Homo sapiens: one gene and its partner. The protein of the gene in region 2 interacts with the protein of the main gene of each other region in a biochemical or structural test. Each region holds a gene or a part of one and is shown on either strand. Other genes may lie near its edges.

Region 1 (7,027 bases), on a different chromosome or scaffold from region 2:
TGAAGCTCTTGAAATGCACTAAATACTCCTGGGTAGAATACAATGAATCATAAAGGGGTCATCTAACTTAACCCTCTTCAAATATAAGAATTATCTATGGCTGGACAGTTGGTCTCTGCTTGAGTACTTCCAGTGACAAAGTACCGACATTCTAAGGTGTCTATTCAACACTTATGTGGTGTACAGGCCAGCAACACTGCCGTCAACTGGTAGCTTAGCTTTTAAGAAATGTAGACTCTCAGGCTTCAACCCAGACCTACTGAGTCAGAATCTAAATTTTAACAAGATTCCTAAGAATCTGGTATGACACATTAAAGTTTGAGAATTACTTCATTTAACAAACAAGTAACCATCAACACACGTGAAAGCACCTACTTTAGCAATCAATGCTCACACTATCCTCTCTACCCCAATTTCTGACTTAACAATTGGGTTCTGACTTAAGAGTCAGAAATGCCTGACTCTGAAATTATTTCATGGCATTTAAGAAAAGTCAGTATCTAGCCTTTTCTTTTTCCAAAAGAACTTCTCTGAAACCTCTCTTCCCCATAAACAAAGCAATTTCTCCCCTAAACTCCTAAAACACATGCTTGTATTTCTTAAGTATTGCACTAACCCAGAAACATTTATTGAATACCTATGTACTGGGGAATGGGCCAGACAACTCACACTTAACTTACTCTAGAGTTAATTGTCCAGGATATATTTTATTGCCCTAACTAAACTGTATATTACTTGAGAATAAGGTCTTGTGTCTCCTAAATTACTTAATCCAATGATTTGTTATGGAGAGTTCATATTAATAAAGTTCTTATAAAATATATTTTCCTATAACATCTGCCATCTAACCTACTTCTGCTTCCATAAATGCACATCATAAATGTCATTCCTCTTAGAGTCAAAACACTCTGCGTTCTTAACGCTTCTTCCTAAAGACTTCTGAAATTATTCCAAAATTGCTTCAACTTTTCTTAGGTTTGGCATTGACTCCCAAGCCAATCCCTCAATCCTGGAAGAATGCCCATTTCTGAACACTCTATTAAATTCCCTTTAATAGTACCCTATATTGAATTTCATATTCCAGTGGCAGTCTGTCCTACAACGAGAGCCTATTACAGTACTCAGAAAATAAAATATTGTTAGTAACATAGGTTACATTGGTTATAACTTAAAATATTCACAATTTCTTCTATGGTCTTTGACAATCACAGGAAGTTTTTAGGCAATTATAAATTAGAACTTAAGAAACAGATCAAGCTCATTTACATCTGTTTAGGAGTTTAGCAGTCGGCAAGTTTGCCTTATATTATTCAAAACAAAAAATGCTGCAACATACTTGAAGACAGAGTAAAGACCTTATGAAGGAGTACTAAAGACAGTGCTTGAAACACTAAAATAGTTCTGTCACACTGGAAATATCGTCTGAAAATTTACCCAGAAAAATAAATAAATAAAAGCAAATATCTATAAGACTTGAACATGGACTTCAATAACAAGAACAAGTAATAGAAACCCTTTAACCTGGGGGGCAGGACCCATATGACCTTAAAGCAGACCTCTCCCTATGTCTGGATCAGAGTTTCAAATCTAGGTTTCATCATTCACCAGTTTGAGGCTAAAGTAGGCAAACTACTTAATTTCTCTGCATCTCAATTTCCTCATATGTAAAGCATAATAACTACCTCTGAAACCGTTTTAGGAAATAACCTTAAGGTATGTGAAGTGTCCAGCAACATAGCTAGTAATGGTAAAGGATCAATACATAGCAATTCCTTTCCTCTCCTACCCCACCCACTGCTCCCCTGCCTCCTGAATTCTCTACCATCTCTTGGAGTCAATTAAAAAAAAACTGTACTTTAAAATATTACCTTGGAGTGTATCATCCCTTTTCATATATGTGTGGTAGGCATATATATCTTTTTTAAAAATATTTTTTTCCCTTACCATCTGCAGCAGTACAGCGAGAAGCCAGTTCCCATAGGACTAATCCCATGGCATACATATCTATCCTCAAAAATGCATCCCTTTGGAAGTTTATAGCACCCTCTAATACCTCTGGAGCCATGTACCTCCGGGTACCAACCTGAAAAAGATGTTAAAAGCAAAGAGTACTCATTCATTAACTTTATGAACTAACATATGATTTTGTAAGATGAATCAAAACCAAATGTGGTCTATTACCAGGGTAAGGTATACACACTATAGCGTATAAATAGAAAGATCCTTTCTGCGTATACTTAAAAAATATATCAACAGACATTATGCTGGTACAGACTTAGAAGTTTTTATGTTCCCCTTTCTGGATGTAATCACAAGAAACTGAACCAATTGTCAGCTGGGAGAAGGATGCTGCATACTTTTCAACTGTACCTTTGCATACTGTTTGAAATGTAGCTTTAAAAAAAAAACTTTTTTTGAGGTCTTTTCTCTGTATTAAAAAAACTAATAAAATGTTATAAAAAGAATTAGCTAAGTAAAGGACAGACTGATGTTAAAAAGTTCTATCTGTACAAAATCTATGTATTTGTTTATTCATAAATTCTTCTGTCTTGGAGTCCTTTATTTATAACTGTCCCCAACAATTTGGTATTTCTTAGTACTGTAACTATGGTTACTAAGCTAGTACAGCTAGCTTTGGTTGGTGCTTGACAACATTCATATATGAATGCTTAAAAATATTTGTGAGATAGCTGGGTACATCACAACATACTTGCGATGTATTCGAACTAGAGAGTAGTCTAGATATTGGTACGTCCATAACGCTCCATCCTTAGGTGGCTATAATCTCTACTCTAGACTAAAAGTTGGGCAATTTATGCAAATATACATGTAAAGATTTTTTTTAAGAATAAAGACAGATCACTAAGACTAAAGTTCAAGGAGAACACATTAAAGGGAAAAGTGGCTCTACTTTTAAAAAATTTACTACTCAGAATAATTATTTTAATTGTGCTATCAGTGAATGTTTCCCTAAAGCCTACTTTTCTCTTACAGGTAAATGTATGCCATCCAAGGTACCTACCTCTTTTATTGTAAGATTATGGTTTATTTACCATGTTGACATAAAATGTTCCCTCTTTTATATGTGTTCTTTGTACTATATAAAATGTGCAATAACATGCAAGTCCCTCCAAATATTTCTGAAATTTTCTGGTCCATGAAATCTAAAGTCAAGGAGTCATTACTGTAAGCCAATAATTTTTAACTAATCATAAAACCCAGTTGTGAAGGAGTTAAAAATATGACATGAATGAGTCAGAAATTTTTTTTCTCAAAAAATGAGGGAGGGCTTATGAGGTACCAAATTAAGAATATGTTCCCAGAATTTAGTCTTATGATAGTCTATCATTCAATTAGCTTAGAAGTTTGTCCTCAGGCTTCCTACACAATCTTGGTAGTATTCTCCACAAAATTGCCTCCATTCCCATACACATTTGCAGTCAACTTTTCTAGAGCTATATGGCTACTGACCATTACCCCAAACTACATTCTTAAATAGTTAGTCAATACTGCCAAAATTGGTGGTGCCATGACATTAAAAACGTGTCCTCAGGAACCAATAGGATATGCTGGGGAAAAGAAACCTAAGAATTAGTTGGCCAAATAATTTACATGATATGAAAGATGAAGAAATGATAATGTCGAAGGCCTGAACCATTTAGCTTTGTAGAAAATGTCACCTTTTAGGTTGAACTGGTTTCCCTGATTAAAAGGTGATCTTGGCTGGGCGTGGTGGCTCACGCCTATAATCCCAGCACTTTGGGAGGCCGAGGTGGGAGGATCACTTGAGGTCAGGAGCTCGATACAAGCCTGGCCAACTTGGTGAAACCCCATCTCCATTAAAAATACAAACATTAGGCTGGGCATGGTGGTGCATGTGTGTAATCCCAGCTACTCAGGAAGCTGAGCCAGGAGAATCACTTGAACTTGGAAGGCAGAGGCTGCAGTGAGCCAAGATCATGCCACTGCACTCCAGCCTGGGTGACAGAGCGAGACTCTGTCTCAAAAATAAATAAATAAATAAAAATAAAAGGTGATCTTGCAGGAATGAAAACATCTTTTCCAGCCTCAAAGTTTCTGAGAATAAACTGTATGGATAATGTTCTTTTCCCTTTTGGCCTTCCTAGAGGTTCCCATTACTAAGATTTCTGTGCATATGGATATATACAGAGGTGTGAAGAGTTACCTAATTCAGGGGTTTACAAGTGCTCTGAACTCTGGAGAGAATTTGGAGAAAAGCCATCAAGTTGATTAAAGAAATTAATGAAGCAATAAACAACAAGAAGCAATAAACTATTATTGCATGGGAAAATGGACAGGAAATCTTAATACACTGTAGTAAGGACAGTGACTAATTATTCTTCCACTCTTCTTAAGATGGTGAAAGAACTAACAGACTAAAACTACGGAGTTCATACGAAGAATTCCCTAAGAATGAGGTCTGTTAAAAGGTGGTGGATTATTCTTTGATCAATTTTTCAAAAAGAATCCTATGACGTGTGTCTAAGGGTTGCTTTACGAAGTGCTTGATCTAAACCACCTGAGTCCTCTACCATCATATGAAAATGTCTTCCTCAGAAACTTTGATAACTCTATTAGATGCTGATTTAAACACCACAACAATTTTAGACTAATTCAGTCCTGACATGCCATTCTAAGAAAATATGGAACAAGTTTATTTTTTCTTACATTTTATAATCATCATCCTTACCTGTCCATGGGTATCGCCTGCAGACTTGCCAGCCTCAAATTTTAAGGCCAACCCAAAGTCAGCAATGCAAGCTGTCAGGTTGTTTTTCAACAGCACATTTTTACTTTTGATGTCCCTTGCAAATAAAAAGAGTATTCAAATTAAGTTTAAACTAGTTACCTTTTTAAATTTTTTATTGAAAGCAGAAAAGGGGGAATATGTACACTATGAAAAAATAGTTACTTAAAATTATGAAATGCAGAGAAAGTGAGACAAACAAAGCTCAGAGCCCCATGCAGCCTTAAACACAAGAGCACGGTGACAAACCCCTATTCATAACATGGACAATAAGAAGGAATCCTACCTATAAAGCAGTTATATAAAAATCTGCCATACCAAAAAGATATGTTATCTATGTCACCCACCTACCAATCATAAAACTACTGTTAATATCTCAGAGTTCTGATTTGCAAACTCCCATAGAAACAGAAATTTTAAACCAAAATGAAGAAACTTTTAAAAAATAGCTGAATTGGGGCCTTCTGCTTATTGGTAGAGACCTACATTTTAGAATAATCCCTTATTATAGAGGTTCTTATATTCTTCCACCTGGTTGTAGAAAAGCATCTTATGGAATGAATAACAGAAACTTTTTACCATAAACATACACTGCTCTAGCTAGATCCTGGTGTTCTGAAAAGGGTAACAGTTTTAAGGCAGTAAGATATCCTCTTCTACACACCTGTCTCAACTGGCTCATCCTAGAGATTACTATACCCTAGTTAAATACATCTATGCCAATGACTAGTGGTTAAATTTATGTGCAGACATATAGACCAATAATGGGATACTGAAAGCACAAGCAGACACTCCCAAATGCTATAAAAGCTAATCGATCTTAGTTTCAAAAGACTTTCAGGCCCTTAATAACTTTGGGGGTCCTTAAGGATTAATTCCCTATGTGACCAGGTAGGGCAAGGGAAAATCGAAGACGAGGCCAATAGACTGCATGTAAGAAAGTGAGAAGAGTTATTTCTGAGGTAGACGTCATTTAAAGTTTGCAAAATCAGAACCTAAATTAGAGGCTGACTTACAATAATGCCTCCCAGCAACCTAAAACATCGCCTGGTGGCACTCAGCTAAGTATCTGTTCTGTGAATCAGTTAATGCCTACTTTTCAAACAACCATCTTTAAATGGAACACAAGACAACAAATTGAATCCCACGTTCAAGAAAATTAAATACATGGCAAACTGAATTCCATGTTTAAGACACAATCATTTTTCCTTTTGCGGGCATGACAACTGTTGGGTCTAAGTAGTATTTCTTCACTGGACAACTGTTTTAAGTGATGCCTCCCTTTAAGACTTGGCTCAGGGTACAGATAAGGTCATTCAAAAAACAAGCAAGGAAGACATTCAAAGTCTCTCCTTCATTACATGCCCTTGGATAATAATCCCTATTGATAAATCATGTTTTGAGGTAAAACAAATGTCTTTTTCCTTTGAGATCGAGAAAATATAGTTTATTTTCAATCATGCTTTCAGAAATGAGATGAAGTAGATCATTAAACTTTACCAATAATGTTAACATATACATTATCCAAAATACTTCCTGGCCAATCTCAAAGCTAATTTTAAAAAACAAATGAAAACTGACTGTCTTGTAAAGCATGATTGCATAACAAAGGAAAAATTAAAATTTACCCAGGGGCTTAAAAGTTTAGTAAATATATACTCAATTATCTGGGAAAACAATATAAATTTAGTCTACCTGTGAGATATGGCAGGTTTGTGGCCATCTTTTAGGCCAGGTATATCCTCATGTAAATATGCCAATCCTCTAGCCATGGTTTCTGCAATATGACACAGTTCATTCCAAGAGACCACATTAGCCTTAAGAAAGTCTGATAGTGAACCCTAAAAAAAGAGGGAAAAAAAGAAACTTATGTTCTTGACAAAGGCCATATGTATAAGGAGACTTTTCTTTTTACCTATAAGAGGTTGTGAGTTTCCCTTTCAGGGAAAAATAATATCCAAGAAACAATCTTTCTGGAATGGTTCAAATGGTTCAAATTTCCTTCCATTTCACATTAATAAACATTTGACCAGAAGGAAATACCAGAGCTTTAAACTTTTGTTACAAGAATAGTCAACTTCCACCAATCTATAAGACAAGTTTGTTTTTTTTTTTTTTTAAAGACTAGTTGAAAATCTAAGGTTCTAGAAAATATTTTAAAAGTTAAAATATCCTGACTATAGAGTTGTTATATCATGGGACTAGCAGAACACAAAATAACAACATAAAATAACAACTAATATGTAGAATATTCCTCTA
Region 2 (7,027 bases):
TTAACTCCTATACTATTCTTCATCCACAGAGCCCAGGTTCCAGTGTTCTGAGGATAATGTAATTTATGTGTCAAAATATTAAGCTGCATAGATTCTAACTAAATGCTACACCTTTATTTTAACAACCCACTCTCAGCATTCCTTACAGTACCACTGCCAAGTTGATTCATATTGGATGAATGTCTTTCCTTGGGAGCTAAAGGAAATAATCTGCTTCTAAACTTTTCACTATCCTTTTGAGAAGACAGGTATATTATCACTGTCTCCATCTCACTGATTAATAAACAGGGTCTAGGAGAAGCTTAATGGACTGAAGAGAGGCAGAATAGTCAATGAGAAGGACTGAAATACTGCAGTGCTTGATACTATATTTATATTATGGATCAGCGAGGACACATGCTTAGACATTCTTGAGCTAATTTAGGTGGCTCTAATAGCTACTTGTTCTGATTTTCTTTCTTTTTGGGGGACTAAGTGGAGTCACAGTCTTCCTGAAGAGGCATTCAGAACCATACTGCTGAGCCTGATCACTCAAATACTCAGATGCCAAATGAAGAAAAGGTGGATGTTCTCTCTCTCTTTTCCTTTGTATCTCTGCCTTCAGGTTCTGCTACCAAATGGGCTTCATGGCAGAGAGGTGTTCAATAAGCTGACAACTAAGAAGAGCAAGAGATTTCACACATATGACCTTTAATCACTAATCACCTGAACTGCATGAGAAGTAATGTGAAAGGGAAAATTCAAATGAAACTATATAGCAAAAAATTTTTAAGGGATGAAGCTAACTCATTATAGAGGTAGGTTCAAAATCATGTATCTGAGACCAATACTTAATTCTGCCAATCAAGACTTCTCCTGTCTGTACTTCATTCATTTATTTCAACGTTTTCCCAACGTGGCCATCTTGCCCTATTCAGTTCTAAAAGAAAACAGGGAATAGTTTTCTCCTCTTCGGACCATGGGCTTATGGCCCATCTGGAGAGGATAGGGCTCCGAAGCCCTATCCTATTTCAATTTCCTTTTATTTAAGTCTAGCCCTTTGAAGCCAGCTCTCCCAAGAATATTCTAGATAATATCTCACCCCCTCAGCATTTTTCCATTCTTTATACCAATCATCTGCACTGTTTCCATACAAGTAATAAGCTGGCCATTTTTCACTAGTCCTGAAGATTAATAAAAAAAGAAATTCTACAGAATAATTATCTCCAACTATACTCCCTTATCCCCCAGCAAACTGATAGTATCATAGGATTACTGTGGCCCATGGTAAGGTAGAGAAATGAACAATAGGGCCAGAGTTATATTTTGCATTTTAATAGTTTTGACTGTATGCTTGTTCTAATTTATTTTAAGACCTGAGGTCTGTGGGCCCATATTTATCAGTCAACCTTTTTAGGTTTGCCTGAATTTCTTAACTTGTTCATTTCTTAAACATTATTAAGCACTGTGCTATGATTCAAAAGGTTAAAAAAAGATCTTAGGCCGGGCCCGGTGGCTCACGCCTGTAATCCCAGCACTTTGGGAGGCTGAGGTGGGCGAATCATGAGGTCAGGAGTTCGAGACCAGCCTAGCCAACATGGTGAAACCCTGTCTATACTAAAAATATAAAAAATTAGCTGGGCGTAGTGGCAGGGGCCTGTAGTCCCAACTACTCAGGAGGCTGAGGCAGGAGAATCGCTTGAACCCGGGAGGCAGAGGTTGCGGTGAGCCAAGATTACGACCCTGCACTCCAGCCTGGGTGACAGAGCAAGAATCTATCTCAAAAAAAAAAAAAAAAGGATCTTTTCACTGCCCTTGAGGAAATATTCTGGAAAATAGTAAGATTAATAATTACCATGTAGTATGTCTTCGTAGAGACATTAGCAGGATGAAATGGGAACACAGCGGACAGGTACCCAAATCAACTGCATTCCAAATTTTCATGTTAATAATGGGTGAAAAAGGGCTCTGAGTCTGAAAAGGACACTTAACTCCAACCTTCCTTCTTTCTGTTTTGTGATGTTAAATCCAATTATAAGGGCTGACATTCCCCCAAAGGAAGATACACATTAGTGTTTTAATCAACAAAAGGAGGTGATAAAGTAATGGATGAAAGACAAAATTTGTGGATTTTAAATCTCTTTTCCCCATATGAGTCCCTCGCTGCTTCCTGCCTTGTGCTTTTTGAACAAGTAACTTCACATTCTGGGCTTCACATTCTCATCTATCAGGTGAGCATAATGTTGCCCTCCATGCTCAATGATAGGGTTGGAAAGAATGACTGATCAAAGTTGTTCCCATTCAACTCTACAACCTGTATATTTCCAGATCCAAATCTTTTCAAGGAAAAGGGATAGGGAGGGGTAGGACCTAGGGCTTAGGGAGCAAAGGACAGTGAAGGAGGCCGAAGCCCATTCTCACCGAAAGGATCTTATCACCCTCCTGGAGCCGCCCATCCAGGGCCGCAGCCCCATTTTCTTTGATGCGGCTGACGTAGATGCCACTGTCGTTGGAGACATACTGCTGATCTGTCCCACCGACGATGTTGAAGCCCAGCCCTGAGAAAATCATGGAGGAGTAAAAAGATGGGGGTGAAGAAGAAAGAAAGAGATTAGAGAAGATGAAGAGAAAGGGAGGGAAAGCCTACTGGGGAGGAAAGGCTGATGGAGAGGAGATGCTGGCGAGTCAGCCTGTGATGGAGCTGGTGAATGGTCATGAACAAGGTCAGCCATATCAAGAGTATTGAGTTGCTCACTCAAATGAGGCACGACTGAAAATATAAACACAGTGATCCACCTGTTTTGTTCAATATATAAAGAAAGATCTATATAGAACTTAAAGAATAATGGTGATTACTCTAAGTTCGTTCTTCTTTTTCTTTTTTTTTTTTTTTCAGAGTCTTGCTAGTGGGCATAGTGGTGGGCGCCTGTAATCCCAGCTACTCAGGAGTTCATAGCTCAGTTGCCCAGGCTGGTTATGAGCTCCTGGCCTCAAGCAATCACTATTGCCTTGGCCTCCCAAAGTTCTAGGATTACAGGTGTGAGCCACCATGCCCAGCCTAGATGTAAGTTCTTCTACTCACATTTAGTTTTGATCCTGTTGATGGTATTCAAAGGACCCAATTCCTGACATTCCTGATATTACTACAGCAGGGTTAGCTGTGTTCATCAAAAGAAGCTATGCATTTTTACCAATTATCAAATGAACTGTTCCTAATTTAGTGTGAGAGATTTCTAACCATACCTTCCCTTCCACACTTTCCTTCTCCCAAGCTTCTGGAGAATTTATGTATGATAGTGCTTTAGAAAAATCTCTTGAGAGTTTCTTTTTTTTTTTTTTTTTTTCCATTTTGGTGGTGGAGGCAGTGGTGTAGGTATTGGCAGAGAAACCTCAGAACCAGAAAGGTAACTGCTATTTCATGGTAGGACTAAATCACCAAATTTACTCTCCCTTCCTTCGCTACTTCAAGTACAACCATATATAGGTTGAGTATCCCTTATCCAAAATGCTTAGGACCAAATGTGTTTTGAATTTTGAATTTGGGGGATTTTGGAATATTTGAATTAAACTTACCAGTTGAATATCCCTAATCCAAAAATCTGAAATCTGCAATGCTTCAATGAGCATTTCCTTTGAACGTCATGTTGGCCCTTAAAAAATTTTGGAGTTGGAAGCATTTCAAATTTCAGATTTTTGGATTTGGGCTACTCAATCTATACTTGGGCATAGTAATTGACAACTTTTATTCACTGTAGAAAAAACTGACTACTCGTTGATTAGCAACTCCCCAGTTCCTCTTCCCTAAGTCCTTGGAAACCACCATTCTAATATTTGTTTTTATGAGTTTAACTATTTTAAATGCATATAATTTTAGTTATGCAAGATGAATTAAGTTCTAGAGATCTGCTGTACAACATTGTGCCTACAGATAATACTATATCATACACTGAAAAATCTGTTCGGAGTAGATCTCACGTTAAGTGTTCCTACCACAGTAAAACAAAATATTAAAAGAAAGAAAAAAGAGAAGGAAAGAAAACTGAGTACCAAAGTGCTATTTCTATGGACCAATGACTAAGTGCTGGAAAGGATTTTACTGTACAGAAACCGTTGTTAGGAAAGGATTTTACCTATGCATAAAAAAATAAAAAGGAAAAAGGAACTTCTCTAGGGCTTTCTTAATGTCAGCTACTGGTAGAATTCAGGGGCACAGTGTAAGACAAAGGAGATAGTTTGGAAACAAACCAAAAATCTAGCGGTGCAATTGGAAGGAATAACCATAATCACCAGCCTACACTGTTCTCAATAGAAAAGATACTTAAAGAGACATATGCGGGGGGCCGGGCGCGGTGGCTCACGACTGTAATCCCAGCACTTTGGGAGGCCAAGGCAGGTGGATCACAAGGTCAGGAGATCGAGACCATCTTGGCTAACACAGTGAAACCCTGTCTCTACTAAAAATACAAAAAATCACCTGGGCATGGTGGCAGGCACCTGTAGTCCCAGCTACTCGGGAGGCTGAGGCAGGAGAATGGCGTGAACCCGGGAGGTGGAGTTTGCAGTGAGCTGAGATTGCATCACTGCACTCCAGCCTGGGCGACAGAGCAAGACTCCATCTCAAAAAAAAAAATAAAAAAGAGACATATGCGGGCTTTCTGAAAGTTCTCCCCATTGGTGGGAGAAAAGCTTACACCTGAAGCTCACAGTATTAACATAAGCACTAGCAAATCAATTTGTAATTTAAAGAAAAACATGACCAAACAAAGACACAACAGGAAACATTTAAGTTAAAAAGCATACCTTAGCCAGGCATGGTGGCTCACGCCTATAATCCCAGCACTTTGGGAGGCCAAGGTGGGTGGATCACTTGAGCTCAGGAGTTCGAGACCAGCCTGGGCAACGTGGTGAAACCCCGTCTCTACCAAAAATACAAAAAATTAGACACGCGTGGTGGCACATGACCAACATTGGGAGGCTGAGGTAGGAGGATCATTTGACCCTGGGAGGCAGAGGTTGCAGTGAGCCAAGATTGTGTCACTGCACTCCAGCCAGGGTGACAGAGTGAGACCCCCATCTCAAAAATAAAATAAAATACATAAAAAGCATACCTTGTGCATAAAATCTCTGCAGCTAGATAATAGAAAGAATTTATTCTCTAAAATAATATACATAATAGAAAGTGCTACTTCTGGAGTTTGTGACCTGGCTGGGCAACATAGCAAGACCCTATTCTCTAAAAAAATAAATAAGAAGGTGCTACTTCTGGAAGATGCTATTTTAACTTCCTTGAAGGGCTGGGTATTAAAAATAGTAGCTTAACTTACTAAATGATTTTCTTAGAGCACCCTCAATTTGTATCATAGAAGGTAGGAAGTATTGGAGAAGGTACAGAAATGTAAGATAAGGTGGAAAAGCAGATGGAACAAGATTATCGAAGGTTTTGAAATGACTTCAAAACTGTGACAGCTTTGAACAAGGGGGCCAAGGCCAACCCACCTCTCCCAAGCTGGAACAAACTATGTAGAAAAATCTTTTGATGAAATCCAACACCCTCATCAAATGCTACAGTTGCCTCTGGTGATCTTGGGAACAGGAAGCAAATGTTAAGCAGCTGAATGCAATGTAGTAGTTAGCAACAGAAAGGACTTTGCTACTGGTTATTCAAAGCTAACTGTAGAAAAAAAAGGAAGAGTAGAAGAAATTTTACCGAGATTTACCATAAACAAAAAAGAGCCGTCTACTACACACCCCATCGAAGTCATATTATATAGGTACATTTATAACCCGTTGCTACTTCTGTTGTAAATGAACCAAACTATTTAACATGAGAACTCCTGGACTGACCTGAAGCCCTTTGTTCAGCCAGAATATTTACAGAACTGGGTGTATCTATAAGCCAAAGCATTGCTGCAATAAAAGAGTCACCACAGCATTAAGTAGTGGCATGACCAACTGAACCTGGGCTGTACGGATACCTACATAATCCCCAGTTCACTTGCTCAGTAAAAATTACTGATTGAATCTTATGTGTAAGATGTTGTGTTATCATCTGAGGAAGACATAAAGTTAAACTGCACACTCCCTGCTTTGATCACAAACTGGAGTTTTTCCTTTTTCCTGTCCCTTTAAGATATTGCAGAAGCAAATCAACATTTACTATGTGTTAGGCATTACGTTATGCTCTGAGGAAGATATAAAGCTAACCTGGACAGTTCCTATTTTAACCACAAACCCAAATTTATCCTTTTCCCTGTCCCTTTTAGATATTGTAGAAGCAAATCAAAGTCAGAAGACTTGGTTCTAAGTTTATAACTTACCAGATATGTGGACTGAAGCAAGTCAGTTTACCTCTGATCCTCAGCTTCCTTTTCTACAAAAATAAGAATTATAAATTCTGCCCTGTCTACATCAATGGGTAAGTGTTAGGGGCCAATAACATAAAATACGAAAAAAAATCTTCATAAACTACATAGTAGTTGCTCTATTGGGATAAGGCGCTAGGAGTAGTTGTCAATAAACTAATGGCTGCTAAAGCTCCAAACTAGATAGTTTGACAGAGAAAGAATGAATAAATATACAGTAGAAATGCAAAATCTCCTAAAAAATGGGAAGACAGATTTTAAAATTCCACCCATCTATAAACAGGAACTCAAACTTATTAAGTACGTCTATGGCATGTGACCTAGAAATCCCCCTTAAGAGTAGTTTCTAGCAAGTGTGATATCTAAACTCTGCGGCAATCATCCAGCATATGGACCAACCAATTGAAACAGATGTCAGTTGGAAACCACCAGAAAGGGAAAGGCTATTCAATACGTATCTTGCTAATCATTGGCTATGGCCCAGAAAAATCTTGCATAAGTAGGGTGACCACATATCCCAAAAGCAATTGCCACAAAAGCCAAAATTGACAAATGGGATCAATTAAAGAGCTTTTGCTCAGCAAAAGAAACTATCATCAGAGTGGACAGGTAACCTACAAAATGGGAGAAAATTTTTGCAATCTATCCATCTGACAAAGGGCTAATATCCAGAATCTACAAGGAAC

Evidence for each region. Proteins that work in one complex are often made in the same cells at the same time.
Region 1: the proteins of SYNJ2BP (region 2) and ACVR2A form a complex in vitro, tested with the Homo sapiens proteins (2 studies listed by BioGRID and IntAct, with this or other methods).

Annotation. Positions count from the first base shown.
Region 1 is NC_000002.12:147,918,029-147,925,055, reverse strand, and holds part of ACVR2A (activin receptor type-2A isoform 1 precursor), read right to left. Parts: intron 6,610-7,027; coding exon 6,464-6,609; intron 4,827-6,463; coding exon 4,712-4,826; intron 2,084-4,711; coding exon 1,945-2,083; intron 1-1,944. UniProt on the Homo sapiens protein: On ligand binding, forms a receptor complex consisting of two type II and two type I transmembrane serine/threonine kinases.
Region 2 is NC_000014.9:70,386,070-70,393,096, forward strand, and holds part of SYNJ2BP (synaptojanin-2-binding protein), read right to left. Parts: intron 2,538-7,027; coding exon 2,401-2,537; intron 1-2,400. Other genes in the region: SYNJ2BP-COX16 protein, read right to left, coding at 2,401-2,537. UniProt on the Homo sapiens protein: Regulates endocytosis of activin type 2 receptor kinases through the Ral/RALBP1-dependent pathway and may be involved in suppression of activin-induced signal transduction.